Regions from separate parts of the Homo sapiens genome. Here regions 1, 2 and 4 are each reported to be linked to region 3. The links are microRNA targets in miRTarBase. Many come from high-throughput screens and were not tested one by one. Region 3 holds a microRNA gene; each other region holds the end of a gene's coding sequence.
What was found. Region 3 holds the annotated microRNA hsa-miR-548h-5p (AAAAGUAAUCGCGGUUUUUGUC, at 2,292-2,313, opposite strand). A microRNA usually pairs through its seed, bases 2 to 8, with sites in the 3' UTR of a target mRNA and lowers its output. Matches are read on the target gene's strand: a 7mer-m8 pairs with bases 2 to 8, a 7mer-A1 pairs with bases 2 to 7 and ends in A, and an 8mer does both.

Region 1 (5,294 bases), not on the chromosome of region 3:
CCAGGCTGGAGTACAGTGACGTGATCATAGCTCACTGCAGCCTCCAACTCTTGGGCTCATTTGATCCTCCTGCCTTGGCCTCCCAAAGTGCTGGGATTACAGGTGTGAGCCACCACACCTGGCCTAAGATCCATTTTTAAACTTTGCTATGGTAAATCCATAGTAGCCTTAATTTAAGGGACCACTGGTCTTATTACAAATTTTAACACTTTTGGAGGCTTCAGTGAATCCCTTAGTTGGTGACACAGGACTCTAGTGGTCAGATTATGTTTCCTCACCCTGTATGAGCTCTGAGAATTGTTCTTCTGACTCCCCATTCTATGCCCAGCCTCCTTTCCTCCAAGATAGTAATTCATTTTACTCATTTAATGAGTTAAGACCATTTAACACAAACTCTTTCAACTTTCCATGTCACTTTTTCTTCTGAGGTTAATCATTCCATCAGTATCCTGTTTAGTAATACATTGCACCATTATGTTTCCTCAGGAACAGAGCTAGAAAGTTAACCCAAGGTAACCACTTAGGGCCATGCTTCTCATAAGCAATCTGGTCTAGTAATACATTGCACCATTATGTAATACACTGACTCATGGTCAACTTGGGTTAACATTGTAGCTCTGTTCCTGAGGAAACACAATGGTGCAATGTATTACTAGACAAGACTGCTTATGAGAAACATGGCCCTTATGTGATAAATTACACCTAGACTGGGAGAAACAATGAATACCTGATGGGAAGACATGGCCTTGTGTTTCTCTGAATACAATGACTTGTAAATGCGGCATGCTCCTTGCAGGGACCTAGAAACTATGTCCATGAAGCTATTACAAGAGTTAGTGGCTCTTGTTGTACATGAAGCTTCTAAGTTGGGGTAGCTCTTGCACTTACCTAAGTCTTATCTCTTGCATCTGAGCTACTGTGTGTTTCCGTGTGTTCGGAGGATAATTCTTGGATGGCTGTGTGAACTGCCATGAGGAATACTCCCGTGGAAGAGAAACACTTGATGATGCTGGGCTGGCAAGCTGTTTTCTGTGTCCCCTGTGCTTTTGATTAAATTGGTGCCAAGTAAGACCTCTTCAGGTCTTGTGAATCCAAATATTTGATTGAGTCTAAAAAGGTCCCTTTGACAAGAATTAGAGGTCCATTATTTAGCACAGCTATTCATATTATGGGGCTCCCCTTCAAGGTCTTTGAGGTTAAAACCTTGTCTTTTTCATCTAGCAAAATTTTGGTATTGCTTTGTGATCTGGTGAATCACTTAGGCAATCTAAATTTTTATTTTTATTTTTACCATTAATAGAGATATAATTATTTCCTATCTCAAAGGGTTGCTGTGATGATAAATATGTAGAAATATTTCCTAGGCAGTAAAATGCTATGTCTAAGTGGCAATACTAGTATCATTATGCTAACATATAAATTAATATTTCTTCCAAAAGTATCCTTAGGTTGGGTGCAGTGGTTTATGCCTGTAATCCCAACACTTTGGGAGGCCAAGGCAGGTGGATCACTTGAGTCCAGGATCTCAAGACCAGCCTGGGCAACATAAGGAGACCTCATCTCTACAAAAAATAATTTAAACAATTAGCTGGCCATGGTGGTGTGCACCTGTAATCCCAGCTACACAGGAGGCTAAGGTGGATCACCTGAGCCTGGGAGATTGAGGCTGCAGTGAGGCATGATTGCACCACTGCACTACAGCCTGGGTGATAGAGTGAGACTGTCTCAAAAAAAAAAAAAAAAAAAAAAAAAAAAAAAGAACATGAACATAAAAGTATCCTTACAAATATAGTAACATTAATCAATTTATGTATCAATCCTGATTTTCATTCCAACCTTCAAATGATTAGTTAAAACAATTTGATAAAGGAAGACCATCCTGATGTAAAGTTGACAATCATACTGAGAAAACTACCCTGTCCTCTCTCCCCCAACCCAGCCTGGTCTGCTTTTAGGACAGTACAAAATTATTTGCTCATCCCTTAAGTCCCTCTCTTGCTGAAAGTAAAACAGTTCACTACTACTTCTGTCCCAACAATGGGAGTTAAGACACATAACCTGTTTGAGCATTTAGTAAGTTGCTGGAAATATATTAAGCCAGAGAACTGGAAGGGAAGTGAGATCGTTGAACTCTTTTTATACTCCTGGGACCTCTTAAATCAAGCACTACAGGACAGAAATGGCCATTATCAAGAAATATTTTAGAAATTCTCAGGTATATAAATTTAGATTATAAATCTGGATTAGAGAATCGGAAATTGTATAATCTGTCTGGGAGGTTTCACCTTTATGTAGCAGTATAAAATATCACTTAATAAGCGGAAATCAAACCTGTTTTACTTGTGGTTGGGGAAAGGCCAATCAACCAACACTCTAAATCTCTAACACAAGGACAGTGGTTGTACCTAGGCCAAACCACAGAAACTTTCATTGCACATTTCACCTTCACAAAAAGGCTACTTTAGGCTCTTTTTCTGTGTATTATGGGACATAGACAAATGTTTCTTTGTATTTATTCCAGTTCTAGTCTTCCTTAAGCTTTTAATGATTCCAAACACTGCTCCCCTTCTTTTTGTTCTCATCACTCAACATCTAGAACCCAGATACTTTCTCACATTCCTTTCTCATATTTTCCTCTGTAAGCCCAACACCAGAAATGGTACTATATCTGAGAATCAAGGGAACTCATTCCCTTCAGATCTGCTCTAGAGTATTTAAAAAATAAATTAATAAATAAATAAAGCCAAAGATCCTCTATTTGTTAAAGAAATAAAACTATTTTAGCAGGACAGGCCAAATGAAAAACAGGACAATCAGATTACTTTTGGATCTATTTCTTTTTGTGTGAGATTATTTTAGCTTTATTTATTTTTTTTTTGAGACAGAGTCTCTGTCACCCAAGCTGGAGTGCAGTGGTGCAATCTCGGCTCACTCACTGCAACCTCTGTCTCCCTGGTTCAAGGGATCCTCCTGCCTCAGCCTCCTAAGTAGCTGGGATAGTACAAGCGTGTGCCACCATGCCCGGCTACTTTTTGTATTTTTAGTGGAGACAGGGTTTCACCATGCTGGTCAGGCTGGTCTTGAACTCCTGACCTCAAATAATCTGTCCACCTCAACCTCCCAAAGTGCTGGGATTATAGGCGTGAGCCACCGCACCCGGCCTATTTTAGCTTTAAAATTTGGTTGGTTTCACAGTGAAACATTAACTACAACTCTACTTAATTTTGTCAGGTACCCTAAAATTCTAATAATCTCTTGGTACAGTGATAACATTTCATTAACCAGATTATTCTATAGAAAAACTGAGCACATATGAGTATGTTCTAGGTAAAATTTTGTCTTGCATAAAACAACAAAAAAAATAGTTAAGGCCCTAATGTGCAAGTAGAGGCAGGAACAGGGGGATATTAAACCAATCATGAGCCTTCCAAAAAACTTTCAATCTTATGCTGTGTCAAGATATCACTGGCTGTTGGTAAAGTGCTAATAGCAGAATCAGAGAGTGCTCATGTACTTGCTGATTGAAAATACATGATTGACATGATTGGAAGTACACTCCAGCTTGGGTACAGAGTGAGACTGTCTCAAAAAAACAACAACAAAAAAGAGACAAGACTATCTTACACTTTTTTGTGGTTTTTCCCTTGCCCTTATAGCTTCCCTACAGTAGTGGGTAACTAGTATCCAACTGAAGGCTCTGAAAAGGGCACAAAGACCTCCTAGAAAGAGTACTTCATCTGATCAACACTAAGAAGTTCATCTGTCTGCTGCTGCTGCTGCGGACAAGCTTTATCACCAGAAAGTCATTTATAACGTTTGCGTCAATAGTAGGTACAAACCTTGGAGCTATAATTAAGATTCATTTAATTATGCTGGAAAAGTGAGGTAAAAGTGTTATTAGCTTCACAGCAAAATGTGTTGCGCACTACTTAAACTTTCTTCAAATTCTTTGTGTAGCAGCTATTGGTTTTTAAACTTAAAATGAAAAAATGCTTTGCAAGAAAATTCAATGTTCAAAGACAAAAAAAAAAAAAGCACTCAGGGAGAAAATATAACTAAAGGACATTTATTTATTTTTACCAAGACTTTATCTTGAGGACATGGCTAAACTGCATTTCCACCCCCCACCCCATCTTGAAGAAGGGTTAGTATGTGAATGTTATAAAGTAGATATGAACAGTTGAAGGACTGGAACCAACATTAAGTGACGAAGAACAACTTCCATCTAAATCATCATAAAAATGTTTAAGTAAAAAAAAAAAAAGAAAGAGAAAGAAAAAGAGGAGGTAACGGGGGTTTCCGATTGAACAAGATCCTCACATTTCATCTAATACAGTCAATCTTGGCTAGAGTATAACAAAGTGGAAACAGGATTACTATGATACAAAACTTCCACTACAGCACGCTGTACACACCTGTGTTCCAAGCCCACCCCAACCCCCCCAGTGCTTCCAACACAATTATTTCCCAGCCTGTTGGGCCTGCCGACGAAGGAGCACGTAGATCTTCTCTTTAATCCAGTCTTTGTTATAAGGCTGGTATGTCTGGGTATCAGCTCGGTAACTGAGGAGAGAAAGGGAATAAGCAAAGTCACAGTGGTCAATCACTGCCAGGTGTTTAAATCCCCAAATTATAACTGCCCAATGATGGCATAGATGTGCACATTTCCAAAAATGAACTTAATGAAAAGCTGAAAGAGCTACTTACACAGTCGTTGAATTTTAAGTGACATGAACTTTATATCACCTAGTACAATCTTATAGTGGAAAAAGAAAACATGACTTAGAATTTTTAAGTTAAATGCCCAATATGTTACATATCTACTTCTTGACAGAGTATGACCAGAAACCATGTGTTCTTCCTCCTACATAGTTTCTATTTTTATGGTTCCTTTAGTGATTAAAAAACAACAACAAAAAAATTGGCTGGGTGCAGTGGCTCATGCCTGTAATCCCAGCACTTTGGGAGGCTGAGGCGGGTGATCACTTGAGGTCAGGAGTTCAAGACTAGCCTGGCCAACATGGTGAAACCTTGTCTCTACTAAAATACAAAAATTAGCTGGGCATGGTGGTGCACGCCTGTAGTCCTGCCTACTCAGGAGGCTGAGGCAAGGGAATTGCTTCAACCGGTGGAGGATGCAGTGAGCCGAGATCGTGCCACTGCACTCCTGTGAGTGAGACTCCATCTCAAAAAAACAAAAACAACAATACTAGAACAAACTTTAGATTTGCAATGTTTATTCTGAATTAACTAAAAAACCTTTAAAAAACATGTACTGGCAACAAAGATTTCTT
Region 2 (5,294 bases), not on the chromosome of region 3:
ACCCGTTTTTTAATAGGAGAATTATAGAATCATTTGCTCTGCTTACTTTATTCAAATGTTCTTCTGAAGCAATAAACCCATTCATTTTGTCAACCAAATTGTTGAAATTAGTTCTACCAGAACCAATTGTTTTATTGATATGAAAGGAAAGTTTGGTTTTTTTTCCCCCTTTTTTTTTGAGACAGAGCCTCACTCTGTCACCCAGGCTATGGTACAGTATTGCAATCTCAGCTCACTGCAACCTCTGCCTCCTGAGCTCAAACGATCTTCCCACCTCAGCCTCCTGAGTAGCTGGGACTATAGTCATGCGCCACCACACCCTGCTAATTTTTGTATTTTTTTGTAGAGACAGGGTTTTATCATGTTGCCCAGGCTGGTGTGAAACGCCTGGGCTCAAGTGATCCACCCGACTCAGCCTCCCAAAGTGCTGGGATTACAGGTGTGAGCCAACATGCCCAGCCTTCTGTCGGTTTAATCATTATTAGTATATGAGTTCAAGAACTATGTAATGTAGAATCATATAATTTCAAGTACTTTAAATGAATGAATTGAGTGGACATCTTTTGTAGAAATAGGCCAATCAAGTATGGAATAAGGTATATGCCAACAAATACTAAAATTTAATCAGAACCCTCTATAAGTAGCAATTAAAGGAGACTTTCACATTTTACAGCTCCTTCCCATTATCATTGAATTAATCCTTATCAGAAATTTGGGATAGAAAGGGGCCTTTCCTTGAATGTCCTATAAGCTACTCTCTTCAAGTTACTTGATGGGATAATGAATGGAATCTGTTGCTTACTGACTCCACACCTATGTTAAGCCAAGCTTCTCTTTGTGTGTACAGGTACAACAGAATAGCTCGGGAATGGACTCAGAAGTATGCGATGTAATTAAAGAAATTATTGGATAACCTCTACAAATAAAGATAGGGGAACTCTGAAAGAGAAAGTCCTTTTGATTTCCATTTGACTGCTTTCTATGAGCCCACGCCTCATCTTCCCCTGTGCACATGTTTACCTGATACAGCAGTGCTGCGTGTTGTACATACTTGGAACAACAAACTAGAAATACTGTACTTCTGTACCAACATTGCCTCCTAGCAGAGAAGTGTGTGTGTGACAAGCCAGTTCTACAGGCATTACCTAGGTGTGAGACTAAAAGCTTTTCTTATTGACTTAAATTTGGATAACAGCAAGGTGTGAGGGGGGTGGTGGGTATGGTGTGTGCTTGGATGGGAAAGAAAAGGCTCCACTCACCTATAGGAGATTATTTTTAAGTGGAATCCATTTAAACTCAAAACAGTTATGAAAAGCAAGGTGAAGAACATGAAGCTGTGTCTGTATTCATTTTATTCCGAAGGAGCTACGTCTTAGGTGAAAGTTATGACCAACCAGATTAAACTCTACCCACATCCTGCATTTTAAGGTCTAAGTTTAACTGGTCAACATTTAAATGGATTGGAGCTATTAGTACATCAAGTGTGATGGGCTTTGTTCCCAACTCTTTTACATCTCCCTACCCCTTCAACCTTTGGCCTTTCAGCCCTTCTTTCTCTCTTCCATATTCTTTGGTTTGTATGTGGTTTCTCAGTTAATACATAGCTAATAGCTCTTATTTTTCTTATGTTTTTAACCGCTTAGGTCTATTTGGATGTAAGGGTGAAAATTCATTTGATGGAAATACTTGTGTATATTTAAAGACCCAATTGCTCCTCTGGAGCTTGTACTTTCAAGAATGATTAATCTGTGTAATAAACTGGTTACTACAGTCATTACATATAATTTTGTGTGAATAGGCTTTTTCATTTTTAAGAAGTTTGTCTAGCTGAGATTAGTGGTGGATTTTCTCCCACTTCTGAAATGTTCATTTATACTGGTTGCATTTTAAGATCATGAAACAATTCCAGTTACATTGTAAAAAGGATATCTTACGAGTAATTTTATTGAACAAGTTAGAGGCATAAGCTTAAGAGCATTTCCATGAAACAACACATGCAGCATTCCAGGAACTTGATTGTTAAATTCAATAAGAAATTTGCTTTATTAATGAAACTAAGCTGCATTTCATCAAAACCTTGTGACATTCCCTTGGTACATAGGACATAAAACACAGAGGCATTGCTATTTGGTAAGTTAAGCTTCTGTGATTGTAATTATAAAAGAGCAACATTGACCAAACCTGGGAAACAAGAGCACAGTCTTGTTTGGAGAGTCTACATAATTACTTTGCACTAACATTTGCAGGATGTTCACACAATTTTAAATTGTACTGTATGTGGCTTTTTGAAGTCTTCCCTTGACCCTAGTAAAATATAGCTTGAAACTTGTAAACAACTGTGTTTGCCAGAAACATCATTCATGTGAACTAGGCAAGTTACCTTTTTTCCCCCCTTCTTTTCCTAATTGTAAACTAGGCCAACCTGAAAGCCATGGCTGATGCTCTAGCCATCAGGTTCTTTCAAATGCATCTTTACACTCTTGCACAAAAGTTAAGGAATAAATGTCCACTGCTTTTGGTTTTAAACTTGTTCACCTTGTCTTATCTCTCACTGTCACTGCTCCTCCACCTTGGAACTTGTGTGATAAAACCCAAAACCTCTTACAGTTCTCTTATAAGCATTTCAAGCATCTCTTATTAGCATCCTTGACTTTGCAGAAAAGGCTTAACTGTTAACAGTTGTGGGGAAAGGAGTTAGAATTTAGCTTAAGCCTAAAATCACCCTGTATTCTCAGTATTATGGGCAAGTGGGACTTCATCTTTTTTTTTTTTTTTTTTTTTTTTTAAGAGAGGGACAGGGTCTCATTCTCTTGCCTAAGCTGGAGTGCAGTCGGAGTCATGACAGCACAGCTCACTGCAGCCTCAACCTTCTAGGCTCGAACAATCCCCCTACCTCAACCTCCCAAGTTGCTGGGACTTATGGTACATGCCACCACACCTGGCTAATTTTTAAATTTTTTTTAGAGACAGGAGTCTCACTATGTTGCCCAAGCTGGTCCTGAACTCCTAGGCTCAAGTGATCCTCTTGTCTCAGCCTCCCAAAGTGCTGGGACTAGAGACAGCCACCATACCCAGCCTTCCATCAATTATTGGCTTGCTATTAACTACATACTGTTGACCGTGGGTCAGTTGCACAGATCCTGAAAGCTCATTCTGTATTTGCCTGTCATCTTAGAGAGCAGCCAGCTTATTACCATTTATTAGATCATAATATGGATATTTTCACAAGAGTGTTCTTAAGTATTTTTAAGTGCCAAATGAAAGCCATCCTCCAGGTGTGCAGGTGCCAATTGAAGGGGTTTGGATGGTCACAAACAACATTAGGCCCTTGAATGGGGTTTGGTCTTGCCCATTTGAGTATGAAGCTTCTTTGGTCCAGTCTGTGTATATGTGCCTGGCCAGAAAGAAAGCCCAGTGAGAGAAGCCACCTTTCCCACTCACCAAAAACAACAACAACAACAAAAAATCCCTCAGGGTTGTTTTCATCTGGACCACATTGCTCTTCACAGAAGTTTCTATGACTTTGTCGTATGTAAAATCCAGTCTGTAGCAACCTTGATTATCTTGGAAAAGTTACAGGAGAACGTCAAGTGTATGGTTTCCTTTTGTTTGCTTCTTAATAGCCCAAAGTACTTTGTCAAGTTAAAGCTGGGGCAGTGTCTTTTGGTAAAATGAAGTCACTTCAGATACTTATATGCTTTGCTATTGGCGAATCAGTAGTCAAAGGTATCATTGTCCTGCGAGTTTATGCACTTTGAGTAGTACAGAGACTTGGAAGGAGGGCGGTAGGGGTGGGGAGAGAGAAGTTAGGAAGGTCTGTGAAGAGAAGGAAAAGGTAGTTGTCAGAGAGAGACCCTTTCTCTACACTAACCTAGCAATAGAGGCCTTCTTTTTCCACTTCCAACTGCTAAAATACTCTGCTTTCTGAATCATTCCTCTTTGTTTCAACAAGTTATTTTGAGACCTGGGTAGCTTGTCAGGAGAAATGGATTATTTCTAAATTATGGCTGGAATGCCTATAAACTGTCCCTTGTCTGTAATTAAGGTGAAACTCTGGCTTTGTCTCTGTGTGCTGTATGGCACCCCTTAACTACCCAGGGTAAGTTTTGAAGAGGAGAACTCTCAGCTGGGCCCTGTGGCTCATGCCTGTAATCCCAGCATTTTGGGATGCCAAGGTGGGCGGATCACCTGAGGTCAGGAGTTCAAGACCAGCCTGACCAACATGGAGGAACCTCGTGTCTACTAAAAACACAAAATTAGCCGGGCATGGTGGCACATGTCTGTAATCCCAGCTACTCAGGAGGCTGAGGCAGGAGAATCGCTTGAATCCGGGAGGCGGAGGTTGTGGTGAGCCGAGATCGCGCCATTGCACTCCAGCCTGGGCGACAAGAGCAAAACTCAGTCTTAAAAAAAAAACAAAAAAAACTCTCTTCTCATTCCCAGGTCTTCAGGATTATAAACACATCTTTCCTTCCTTCCAAATCAGGAGTAAGCATTTTTATTACTCCTACAGAAAACTGTAACTAGTGTTAGGAATCCATCTCCTTTTGATTTCCTCATTTTCCCTTTATGAAACACTATTTCAAGTGATGGGTTATTTTGGTGAGTGATGTTAGGCAGGAGAAAGCAGGTTTGTTTTTTGTTGTTGTTGTTTGGAGACAGAGTCTCACTGTCGCCCAGGTTGGAGTGTAGTGGTGCGATCTTGGCTCACTGCAACCTCCACCTCCCAAGTTTAAGTGATTTTCCTGCCTCAGCCTCCTGAGTAGCTGAGATTATAGGCACATGCCACCCACGCCTGGCTAATTTTTGTATTTTTAGTAGAGACGGTTTCACCATGTTGTCCAGGCTGGTCTTGAACTCCTGACTTCAGGTGATCTGCCCACCTTGGCCTCCCAAAGTGCTGGGATTACAGGCATGAGCCACCACACCCAGCCAAGAAAGCAGATTTTTAATATGAAAATAACTGAAGGTAGCAAACTATTTGCACTATACATCCAGCAAGAGGAAATAGACTTCCTTTGGGGCACTCCTGGAGCTAGTCCCTTCTATTTTCCTTTTCTTCCCTTCCTTTCCCTTTCTTTCTCTTCCTTTCCCTCCCTTCCCCTGCCCTTTGCCTGCCTGCCTGCCTGCCTCCCTCCCTCCTTCCCCACTTTCCTTTTTCTTTCTTTACTTTCCTTCTTTCTCTTTTTCTTTCTCTCTTTTCTCTTTTTTTGTGTGTGGTTTTTTTTTTTTTTTTTTTTTTTTTTTTGAGAGAGGGTCTCACTTTTTTGCCCAGGCTAGAATGCAGTGGTGCA
Region 3 (5,294 bases):
TTAGAAAATAAGAAAGATAGCACAGATGACTCCAAAGTTTTTGGCCTGAGCAGCTGGAAGAATGGTGTAACTGTTCAATAATAGGAAGCCAAGTGAAGCAGAAATAGATTGGGGAAAGGATTGGAATAGAATAAAGAATTCTAGGGCAGCACAATGGCTCATGCCTGTAATCCCAGCACTTTGGGAGATTGAGGAGGGCAGATGGCTTGAGGAGTCCGAGACTAGCCTGCTCAACATGGCAAGACTCCATCTCTACTAAAAATACAATAGTTAGCCGGGCATGGTGGTGCACACCTGTAATCCCAGCTGCTGAAGTGGCTGAGGCAAGAGAATCGCGTGAGCCCGGGAAGTGGACGCTGCAGTGACCCGAGATTGCGCCACTGCACTCCAGCCTAGATGACAGAGTAAGACCCTGTATCAAAAAAAAAGAAGAAAAAAAAAAGGAGTTCTGTTTTTGATATGTTAAGTTTGAGATGTCTATTGTGTCCAAGTGGAGATGTTCAGGGTGAAATTGTATGGATTGTGTTTTTCATAGCATAGGGATTCTAGAGGACTTAATAGTAAAAGAAGCAGTAGGAAGATCTCAGAGGAGAGGATGAGACTAGAAGGATTCAGTTGGTCAGTGCAACTTATGTCTCACGTTGTGTCTGAGGATGACAAGAGGTGATGCATTGTGGGTAAAGCTGACTATATGGTTATTAAAAGAAAAAAAAAAGTCCAAGAAGTCCTAGTAAATGGAAAAATTTAGGTCTCCCTGGATGAAGTCAGCCATAGCCTGGGTTGATTGTTCTGCTGAAGAGAGCTTAGTCAGGTGGAGAGTGTGGTAAAGGGATAGCCATTACCCCCAAGGCTTCAATACAAGTGGAAAATGCAACAGCTTTAATCCTAAGATTCTTCCTAGATTCACAATATGTGTGTGCCCTGGTCCCAACCCCTCCCTACTCCCCTCATTTGCCCCCAGGCTTCGTGAAAGTGATAGCAGAATCAGCCATGCTGATTCCTCAGCCCAGTGCACTGGATGGAAGTTAATGCCCAAAACTGATTTATCTTCCTTGAGGCTGGGAAAAGGGATGAGTTGGGAAAGCGAACAACTAGAGGTGTTTATGAAGGAGGAACATCTGGGATGCCCGTGGTGGTAACGTGGAGTGCTGCAAAGAGGACTATAGAGAAGGAAGGCAAAATGCTGTTTAGAATCCACAAACGTGGAATCAGTGCATCTCATTTGCTGGCTCTTACCATAAAATGAGCATCAGTATCCCTGCCCTGAGCTTGGGTAGCTTATCAGAGAAGATCGCTGACACTTTTGGAGCCCATCTGAATAGCTCCCTCTGAAGCCATCCAACTTGACCATGATCTGGACTTCCTACTAGACCAGTATTTTGCCTTTGCCTGATCTTTCAACTTCAGCTTCTGCATTTTCTTCTAATTAGCCCTTTCTTACCCCACCAGCACTGCCAAAATGGAGACTTCCTGTCCCAGTCTCAGACCTTGTGGAATTCACACCTCCCCTTTCCATCACCACCTCCCAACCCTGCCACAATATGGACTACCTGTTGTTACGTTGAGAAGATTAAGACTACACAGGCAGTTAGTTTAGGGAACACCTTCTACAGTTGGTGAAATCTATTTTTAAGATCATGAAATGTCATACTACTGCCATATATACTAATTTCCTCCTCCTCCTTTCTCTAAAACTGTCACTCAAGATAAAAGTCAGCTGGGCCGGGCAGGGTGGCTTACGCCTATAACCCCAGGATCTGGGGAGGCCAAGGCTGGCGGATCACCTGAGGTCAGGAGTTTGAGACCAGCCTGGCCAACATGGCAAAACCCCATCTCTACTAAAAATACAAAAATTAGTCAGGCATGGTGGTGCACACCTGTAGTCCCAGCTACTCGAGAGGCTGAGGCTGGAGAATCGCTTGAACCTGGGAGGTGGAGGTTGCAGTGAGCCAAGATCACGCCATTGCACTGTAGCCTGGGCGACAAGAGTGAAACTCCATCTCAAAAAAAAAAAAGGGCAACTGGTGAATGCTGGGAATATGAATATCAGGGCTTGTGCTTGTTATTTTGGGGAATGACAGAAGACAGACCCAGGCAGTGTTTTTTCCCTGCATTCATCCTTTTTTCCTTTTTCTTTATTTCCCATTTATTTTATTTAAGTGTGATTTAGTTTGTACAACATTTATAAGAGGAATGGAAAATAGACAAGAAGTGATGATAGCAAGTATTAGGTTGGTGCAAAAGTAATTGCGGTTTTTGTCATTAATGAAACGTAAAGTAATTAAAGTAATGACAAAAACCGCGATTACTTTTGCACCAACCTAATAGCTTTGGAAATGGAACAACGAAGGATCACAAGTTTGGCTTCAAGTTTTCTGTGGTACACTTGCCACAAAAAGCAGGGGGCAGAGGAAACTTTTGGAGGCGATGGATATGTTTATCATTTTGATTGTGATGATATCATGGGTGTATATGTATACCCAAGCTCATCAAATTGTACACATGAAATACATGTGGGGTTTTTCTGTCTATCAATTTATACTTTGATAAAGCTATTAAAAAGAAAAAGGCAGAAATGAGCTCAAATTTTAAACTGTCTTTATTCTTTCATTGAACAAGCATTTATGAAGGGCCCGCCATGTGCCAGCTCTGTGCGAGATATTGATGTGACTCTGGGAAGGCAAGCATTGTCCCCAACCCTGCACATCTATCAGGGAAAGCAGAAGCAATTGCCATCACGTGCTAGGACAGGGAAGTTTGGCACCATGGAAACGTGTAGCAGGGGCAATCCTGGTGTGGGGGTGGGTCAGGATTGTAATTCCCAAATTGGAGACTGACTCACACAGCTATCAGTGACAGGCAGAACAACCTCCACAGACTTCAGCCAGAGGGGGGAATTAGCCATTTTCTTTTATATCACCGTTTTATTCACACATCAGCATCCCCTCATTCCCATCCACTTATTCCTGAAAGCAGGCCCTTTTTGAGGCTCCAAACATAGTAATTAAACAAAGGGGATTCTAGAAGGTGGACAAAGCATTAGAGACAGCTTCATTGTATATAAATGCCAAATTTTCTGCATCAGTAAGGTTGCAGCTGTGACAAGAATTAGGCTGCTTTCTAGGTCATATATTTTCTAAAGCACTAGGCAAAAAAAATATTAACACATGAGGGGAAAAGAAATAAATAGACTCAATTGTTTTAAAACCTTATGAGTAGACCATTTTTTAATAATACAATGAATACTGCTTATTGAATAAACAAAGAAATTATTTGTTAATATAAAATAGAGCCACATTCTCTGGTTAAATCGTGAATGTGTAAAAAATTAAGTTCTCAATTTAATCTGTTCTGCACAAGATTCTGAATGAAAGATTAATTGGATATAATGACACTGATATTATTTTCTGTATAATAATAATTCTATACATGTTTGGCAATTTATAGTTGTAATTCTATGAATCTGAATTTTTAAAAGTTAACTACAAATAAACAGTCTCTGTAAATGAGATATATGGGGTAGGAGACTGCTTACATGGGTATGGCTAAAGCATAAATTTGAAATAATATCTGATTCATATCAGAATTTATCAGCCTGGGCTGGATAATGTTTAGTCACAGATGAGACACAGATAAGAAAATTAACACCAGATTGGTAATTAAAAGTGCTTCCTGGGTATGAATGACACCTCTGAATGCAGCATGAAATAATTCCTTTTGTATTCTGCTCCACGTTTTCTTTCATCTTGTGTTTGGACATTAGCCACAGAGGGATTGATGTTTACCGCAAAGAGCCTGGAGTCAGAAGATCTATATTCTGGTCTCAATGCTGCTAGAAGTTAACTGTTAGATTTTTAGAAAAAATAAGTTCTAATCCTCTGTTCAGCTTGCACATCTGCAAAATGAAGATACTTTTTAAAGCAAAATTGAGAAAGAAATAGAACAAAATTATGCATGCAAAAATGCGGTGAAAATTTTTAGTTAATGCAAATATAAAATATCCAAATAGTCTATGCACAAATATATTTATATATCATAACAATGGAAACTAAATTATAATTGAAGGGATATCAAAAATAGAATTATAGTATTGAAACAAATAAAAGCCAACAAGATTGAATATGTGTGTTTGTGCACGTATGTTTTAAGTGGTGAGATACTTCTAGATATTATGTTGTTAACATATTACCAAATTGTTTAACTCATATATGCGTATAGTTTTTGGTAATATGAAACTGTGCATAGAAGGAGATGATCAGTAATTTATTTGGCTGTCTAGTACATGTTGAGTCACTTCTCCATATAAAAAATTAATAAAGAAGGCTAATAAATGGGCTCCTCACGTGAGGGCTAAAGACAAAGACAGATGCAGACGCTTTGTTCCTGAAACCTCTAGCTTGGAATATGTTATAGTCCTGAGACAAAGCCATTCACAATTAATTCCAATGGTAAATCTCAGTTGAGCCTCGGGGGTGTGAAGGGGGACTGATACAGCATAGTCGGTTTGCCATAAATATGCCTAAATCTATAAAAGATTCATCACATTAAAAGAGGTTTTTTCTGAACACTATGCTCATTTATCAGATTATTTGGAGATTATTTAGTATGATAAAATACAGAAAATACCTCACTACATTTGTAAAATCTTTTCAGAAATCAATTTCTAAGTTTTTAACAAAAATGTCATGATAAGACTTCTAGTACTATAAGATGTCATAGACCTTCTGGTATAGGCACAGCAGTCTGAACAAACACCGAAATAAGAGGGGCACCTTAAAATCTCTAGTCAAACGGACTGGTAGAAACCTTCTATGCAATCTCAGTCTACTAAGAAGTAGGTTTCTACCTAATGTAAAAAAACCAATACTGAAAATCAAGGAAAAGAAAGAAATAGGAACAAAACAAACAAACAATAAGACAAACAAACAAAACAAACAGTAACAAGATAAATCTCCAAAAACATACTTGAATGAAGTGGAGTTTTGTGATTTACCTGACAGAAAATTCTAAATAATGGCCATAAGGTTACTCATAGATGTCAAGACAGCAATCCAAGAACAAGCTGAGAACTTCAACAAAGATACAGTATAAAAAAGTATCACATGGAAATCATAGATCTGAAGAATGCTATAACTGAATTAAAAAATTCAATAGCGGGGTTCAATAACAAACTAGAACAATCAGGGGGAAAAATTGTGAACCTGAAGACAGATCACTGGAAATCATTCAGTCTGAGAAGCAAAAACAAAAAAGAATAAAAAGAGGTAATTATAGATGAAGAGACCAATGGGACA
Region 4 (5,264 bases), not on the chromosome of region 3:
GCTCCCGTGGTGTGGGGCCTGTCAAGATATTCCTTCCAAGGTGAAGGATAAGTCGCCTCATTTGGTCCCTCCTACAACCAAGAAGATCCACAATGCTTAGTGGGTCTATTTGGATTTTGGAGGCAACACATTCCTCACTTAGATGTGTTACTCCAGCCCATTTATCTAGTGACCTAAAAGGCTGCCAGTTTTGAGTGGGGTCCAGAACAGGAGAAGGCTCTGCAACAGGTCCAGGCTGCTGTGCAAGCTGCTCTGCCACTTGGGCCATATGACCCAGCGATCCAATGGTGCTTGAGGCGTCAGTAGCAGATAGGGATGCTGTTTGGAGCCTTTGGCAGGCCCCCATAGGTGAATCACAGTGGAGGCCTGTAGGATTTTCACCCCATAGGTGAATCACAGCGGAGGCCTGTAGGATCTGGAGAAGATGGCCCTGCCATCTTCTGCAGCTAACTACTCTCCTTTTGAGAGACAGCTCTTGGCCTGTTACTGGGCTTTGGTGGAAACTGAATGTTTGACTATGGGTCATCAAGTCACCATATGACCTGAACTGCCCATCATAAACTGGGTGCTTTCTGACCCATCACCATAAAGTAGGTCGTGCACAGCAGCATTCCATCATCAAAGAGAAGTGGCACATATGTGATTGAGCTCAAGCAGGTCCTGAAGGCACAAGCAAGTTACATGAAGAAGTAGCTCAAATGCCCATGGTCTCCACTCCTGCCACCCTGCCTCCTCTCCCCCAGCCTGCACCAATGGCCTCATGAGGAGTTCCCTATGATCAGTGGACAGAGGAAGAGAAGACTAGGGCCTGGCTCACAGATGCTTCTGCACGATATGAAGGCACCACCCAAAAGTGGACAGCTGCAGCAATACAGCCTCTTTTTAGGACATGCCTGAAGGACAGCAGTGAAGGGAAATCTTCCCAGTGGGCAGAAGTTGGAGCGGTGCACCTGGTTGTGCACTTTGCATGGGAGGAGAAATGGCCAGGTGTGTGATTATGTACTGATTCATGGGCTGTAGACAATGGTTTGCCTGGATGGGACTTGGAAGACAATGGTCAGGGGCTTGAAAGAAGCATTATTGGAAAATTGGTGACAAATTTGAGGAAGAGGTATGTGGATGGACCTCTCCAAGTGGTCAAAAACTGAAGATATTTGTATCCCCTGTGAGTGCTCACCAGCGGATGACCTCAACAGAGGAGAATTTTAATAATCAAGTGGGTAGGATGACCTGTTCTGTGGACACCACTCAGCCTCTTTCCCCAGCCACCTGCCATCGCCCAATGGGCCCATGAACAGAGTGGCCATGGTGGCAGGGATGGAGATTACACATGGAGATTCAGCAACATGGACCTCCACTAGCCAAGGCTGACTTGTCTACAGCCACTGCTGAGTGCCCAATTTGGCAGCAGCAGAGACTAACACTGAGCCTCAATATGGCACCATTCTTCAGGGTGATCAGCCAGCTACCTGGTGGCAGGTTGATTATATTGGACCTCTTCCATCATGGAAAGGGCAGAGGTTTGTCCTCACCGGAATAGACACTTACTCCTGATGTGGGTTTGCCTATCTTGCACGCAGTGCTTCTGCCAAGACTACCATCCATGGACTCAAGGAATGCCTCATCCACCATCAGGGTGTTCCACACAGCATTGCCTCTGAGCAAGGCACTCACTTTACAGCTAAAGAAGTGTGGCAGTGGGCTCATGCTCATGGAATTCACTGATCTTACCACGTTCCCCATCATCCTGAAGCAGCTGGATTGATAGAACGGTGGAATGGCCTTCTGAAGTCACAATTACAACACCAACTAGGTGACAATACTTTGCAGGGCTGGGACCAAGTTCTCCAGAAGGCCATGTATGCTCTGAATCAGCATCCAAGATATGATATTGTTTCTCCCTTAACCAGGATGCACGGGTCCAGGAATCAAGGCACTCAAGTGGAAGTGGCACCACTCGCCATCACCCCTAGTGATCCACTAGCAAAATGTTTGCTCCCTGTTCCCATGACATTATGTTCTGCTGGCCTAGAGGTCTTAGTTCCAGAGGGAGGAACGCTGCCACCAGGAGACACAACTATTCCATTAAGCTAGAAGTTAAGATTGCCACCTGGACACTCTGGGCTCCTCCTACCTTTAAGTCAACAGGCTAAGGAGGAGTTATGGTGTTGGCTGGAGTGATTGATCTGGACTATCAAGATGGAATCAGTCTCGGCCGGGTGTGGTGGCTCACGCCTGTAATCCCAGCATTTTGGGAGGCCAAGGCGGGCGGATCATGAGGTCAGGAGATTGAGACCATCCTGGCTAACACGGTGAAACCCCGTCTCTACTACACAAAATACAAAACATTAGCTGGGCATGGTGGCAAGTGCCTGTAGTCCCAGCTACTCGGGAGGCTGAGGCAGGAGAATGGTGTGAACCCGTGAGGCGGAGCCTGCAGAGAGCCGAGATTGCACCACTGCACTCCAGCCTGGGCGACAGAGCGACACTCCATCTCAAAAAAAAAAAAAAGATGGAATTAGTCTCTTACTCCACAACAGAGGTAAGGAAGAGTATGCATGGAATACAGGAGATCCATTAGGACATCTCTTAGTATTATCTAATGCCCTGTGATTAAGGTCAATGGGAAACTACAACAGCCCAATCCAGGCAGGACTACAAATCAGGAATGAAGGTTCGGGTCACTCCACCAGGAAAAAAACCACCATCTGCTGAGGTGCTTGCTGAAGGCAAAGGGAATACAGAATGGGTAGTAGAAGAAGGTAGGCATCAATAACGGCTATGACCACATGACCAGCTGCAGGAACCAGGACTGTAATTGCTGTGAGTATTTCCTCCTTTTGATAAAAAACGTTTGTGCATGTATACGCTAGTACTAAGAAAATCTCTTCATTTCCTTTCTCCTTTATCGTGTGACATAAGATTTATTGACTTCACATCAGCATTTAAGTACCGTCAGTCACCTTGGCCGGGTGTGGTGGCTCATGCCTGTAATCCCAGCACGCTGGGAGGCAGAGGCAGGCTGATCACCTGACGTCAGGAGTTCGAAACCAGCCAGGCCAACGTGGCGAAACCCCTTCTCTACTAAAAATACAAAAATTAGCCGGGCGTGGTGGCAGGCGCCTGTAATCCTAGCTAATCGGGAGCCTGAGGTGGGAGAATCACTTGAACCTGGGAGGCGGAGGTAGCAGTGAGCTGAGCCGAGATCACACCACTGCACTCCAGCCTGGGGAACAAGAAACTCCGTTTCAAAAAACAAAAAGTAAAGTATTGTTACCTTTATGTAATAGTATTATTTGGGTTGGGGACTGGTGCGTTTCCGGTTGTATGAAGGATAGTTGTATTATGTTAGGCATAATTGTGACTTTATTTTTGTCTTTATTTGAAGATTATTATCTCAGGACTATGTATGGGTTCAAGTAGACAAGGGGTGGACTCATGATGGTTAATACTGAGTGTCAACTTGATTGAAGGATAGGAAGTATTGATCTGGGTGTGTCTGTGAGGGTGTTGCCAAGGAGATTAACATTTGAGTCAGTGGGCTGGGGAAGGCAGATCCACCCTCAATCGGGGTGGGCACCATCTAATCAGCTGCCAGCGTGGCCAGAATAAAGCAGGCAGAAAAACGTGAAAAGAGAGACTGGCCTGGCCTCCCAGCCTACATCTTGCTCCGTGCTGGATGCTTCCTGCCCTTGAACATAGGACTCCCAAGTTCTTCAGTTTCGGAACTCGGGACTGGCTCTCCTTGTTCCTCAGCCTGCAGACGGCCTATTGTGGGAACTTGTGATCGTGTGAGTTAATACTTGACACACTCCCCTTTATATATCTATCTGTTCCATTAGTTCTGTCCCTCTAGAGAACCCTAATACAGCCAGGCTCCCACTGACCCCCTTGTCTTGGTGCCCTGGCAGAAGGCAACAGCAGGAGTGTTTTCCCATGCCAGCTGCTGTAAATACTGTTCAGTCCCTGCACCCCAGCTTCCAACACAAATTCTCAGAGCAGTCACAGCAGCAAGAACGTTTATTATAAAAATAGGTGAATAAAGTAAGTGTGCTTTAACTTCCGGCTGGATGACAAATGCTACTGAAATGCAGTTTCTCAGTGCAGACATGTGGCTCGCAATGGCGGGGGTGGCCACCCTAGTGTGACGTGCAGCCGCAATACTCCATTTGACTGGTTCGAGGCAGAGAGGCGACGCTTTATTCCATAGAACAGGATGGGGCTCCCACCCTGGGGACCATACAAGTGACTCCCTCAGGCAGCCACCCCTTTCTAGGCAGGCTGGGGGAGGGGCTGGCACACCAGCACCAGATAGCTCTGGCTTAAGCCTGATGGAGACACAGACTGGGACCTCCCTCTGCCAGATGTTCCTGACCCCATCTCCACCTCCAGCCTCCAGCCTCACTGGCAGTTCCCTGTGACCCAGCCTGTTCCATAGCCAAAGGGACCAAAGTGAACGATCAGAGTGCCCCGCAACTATTCTAGGGGCCTTGGCTCTCAGTAGAGCTCAACCCATGGCATCTGAGAGCACCCACCCTGTCCCTGAGGGCAGCTGCACCGGGCCAGGAGGCCGCAAGGGCACGGGTGAGTCTCGGTCACTGGCAGCACTCAGCCACATGCCTGAGGAGCTCTTCCCCTTGCTCGTCACTGAAGCACTGCAGGCAGTGAGGGCACTGAAGGTCCCCCTGGCCTCTCTGGGCCGCGCCAGGATGCCCGCCCTCTGCAGGGGGTTCTGGCTGCTGGGACCCAGTCCCAGGCCTCCAGCCACCAGGCACCATAAGCTCTAATGCGTCGGCGGCCAAATACTTGGCAGTTTTGCTCCCAGCGTGAATCCGGCCGGCGTCTGGCTCTCGAGAATCCTGGAGAAAAGGCAAGGGTGTATATACGTGGGCTGTGCTGACGGTCACAAAGCCAGGTCTCAGGTTCCAGCAACCAGAGGCACTTCACCTATCCCTGAGCGGAACTTCAGCCCCTCACTTTGCTTCCTGCTGCGCCCCAGAGCCCAGACAAGGGGGCGCTCAGTGAATGACTGAGGATCACACACACGCTCCGTCATGTGCTCATGAAGAAGTAGGCCCTGGCGTGGTCCACCCCCCAGCCCCTTGGTGGAAGTCCTGTTCAGTTGGACCTATCGGCCCCAGGAGACCTGACTGAGAAGGTGGCCCTGATGACGTGGCCCACAGGCCACCACAGAGTGGAGGTGGCAGAGCCTCTGGTGGGGAGCTGGGCAAACTGAGTACCAACCCTACTCTGCACCTCCTCTG

Region 1: the mRNA of ERH is a reported target of hsa-miR-548h-5p. Seed matches in the 3' UTR shown: 7mer-A1 at 4,163-4,169.
Region 2: the mRNA of UBE2D2 is a reported target of hsa-miR-548h-5p. Seed matches in the 3' UTR shown: 7mer-m8 at 2,224-2,230.
Region 4: the mRNA of TNIP2 is a reported target of hsa-miR-548h-5p. Seed matches in the 3' UTR shown: 8mer at 4,041-4,048.

The regions. Positions count from the first base shown.
Region 1 is chr14:69,376,078-69,381,371 of GRCh38, forward strand. ERH (ERH mRNA splicing and mitosis factor) reads right to left here. Exons shown (of 4, transcript NM_004450.3): 4 at 4,051-4,563. The coding sequence ends at 4,461. It also overlaps a transcript of GALNT16 not described here. Among named protein-coding and RNA genes, the nearest start is that of ERH, 20 kb to the right of the region's middle.
Region 2 is chr5:139,625,909-139,631,202 of GRCh38, forward strand. It overlaps UBE2D2 (ubiquitin conjugating enzyme E2 D2), which reads left to right. Exons shown (of 7, transcript NM_003339.3): 7 at 848-2,526. The coding sequence ends at 893. Among named protein-coding and RNA genes, the nearest start is that of CXXC5, 20 kb to the right of the region's middle.
Region 3 is chr8:27,046,635-27,051,928 of GRCh38, forward strand. It overlaps MIR548H4 (microRNA 548h-4), which reads right to left and starts at 2,329; the gene lies at 2,219-2,329.
Region 4 is chr4:2,737,662-2,742,925 of GRCh38, forward strand. TNIP2 (TNFAIP3 interacting protein 2) reads right to left here. Exons shown (of 6, transcript NM_024309.4): 6 at 3,987-4,859. The coding sequence ends at 4,596. Among named protein-coding and RNA genes, the nearest start is that of TNIP2, 16 kb to the right of the region's middle.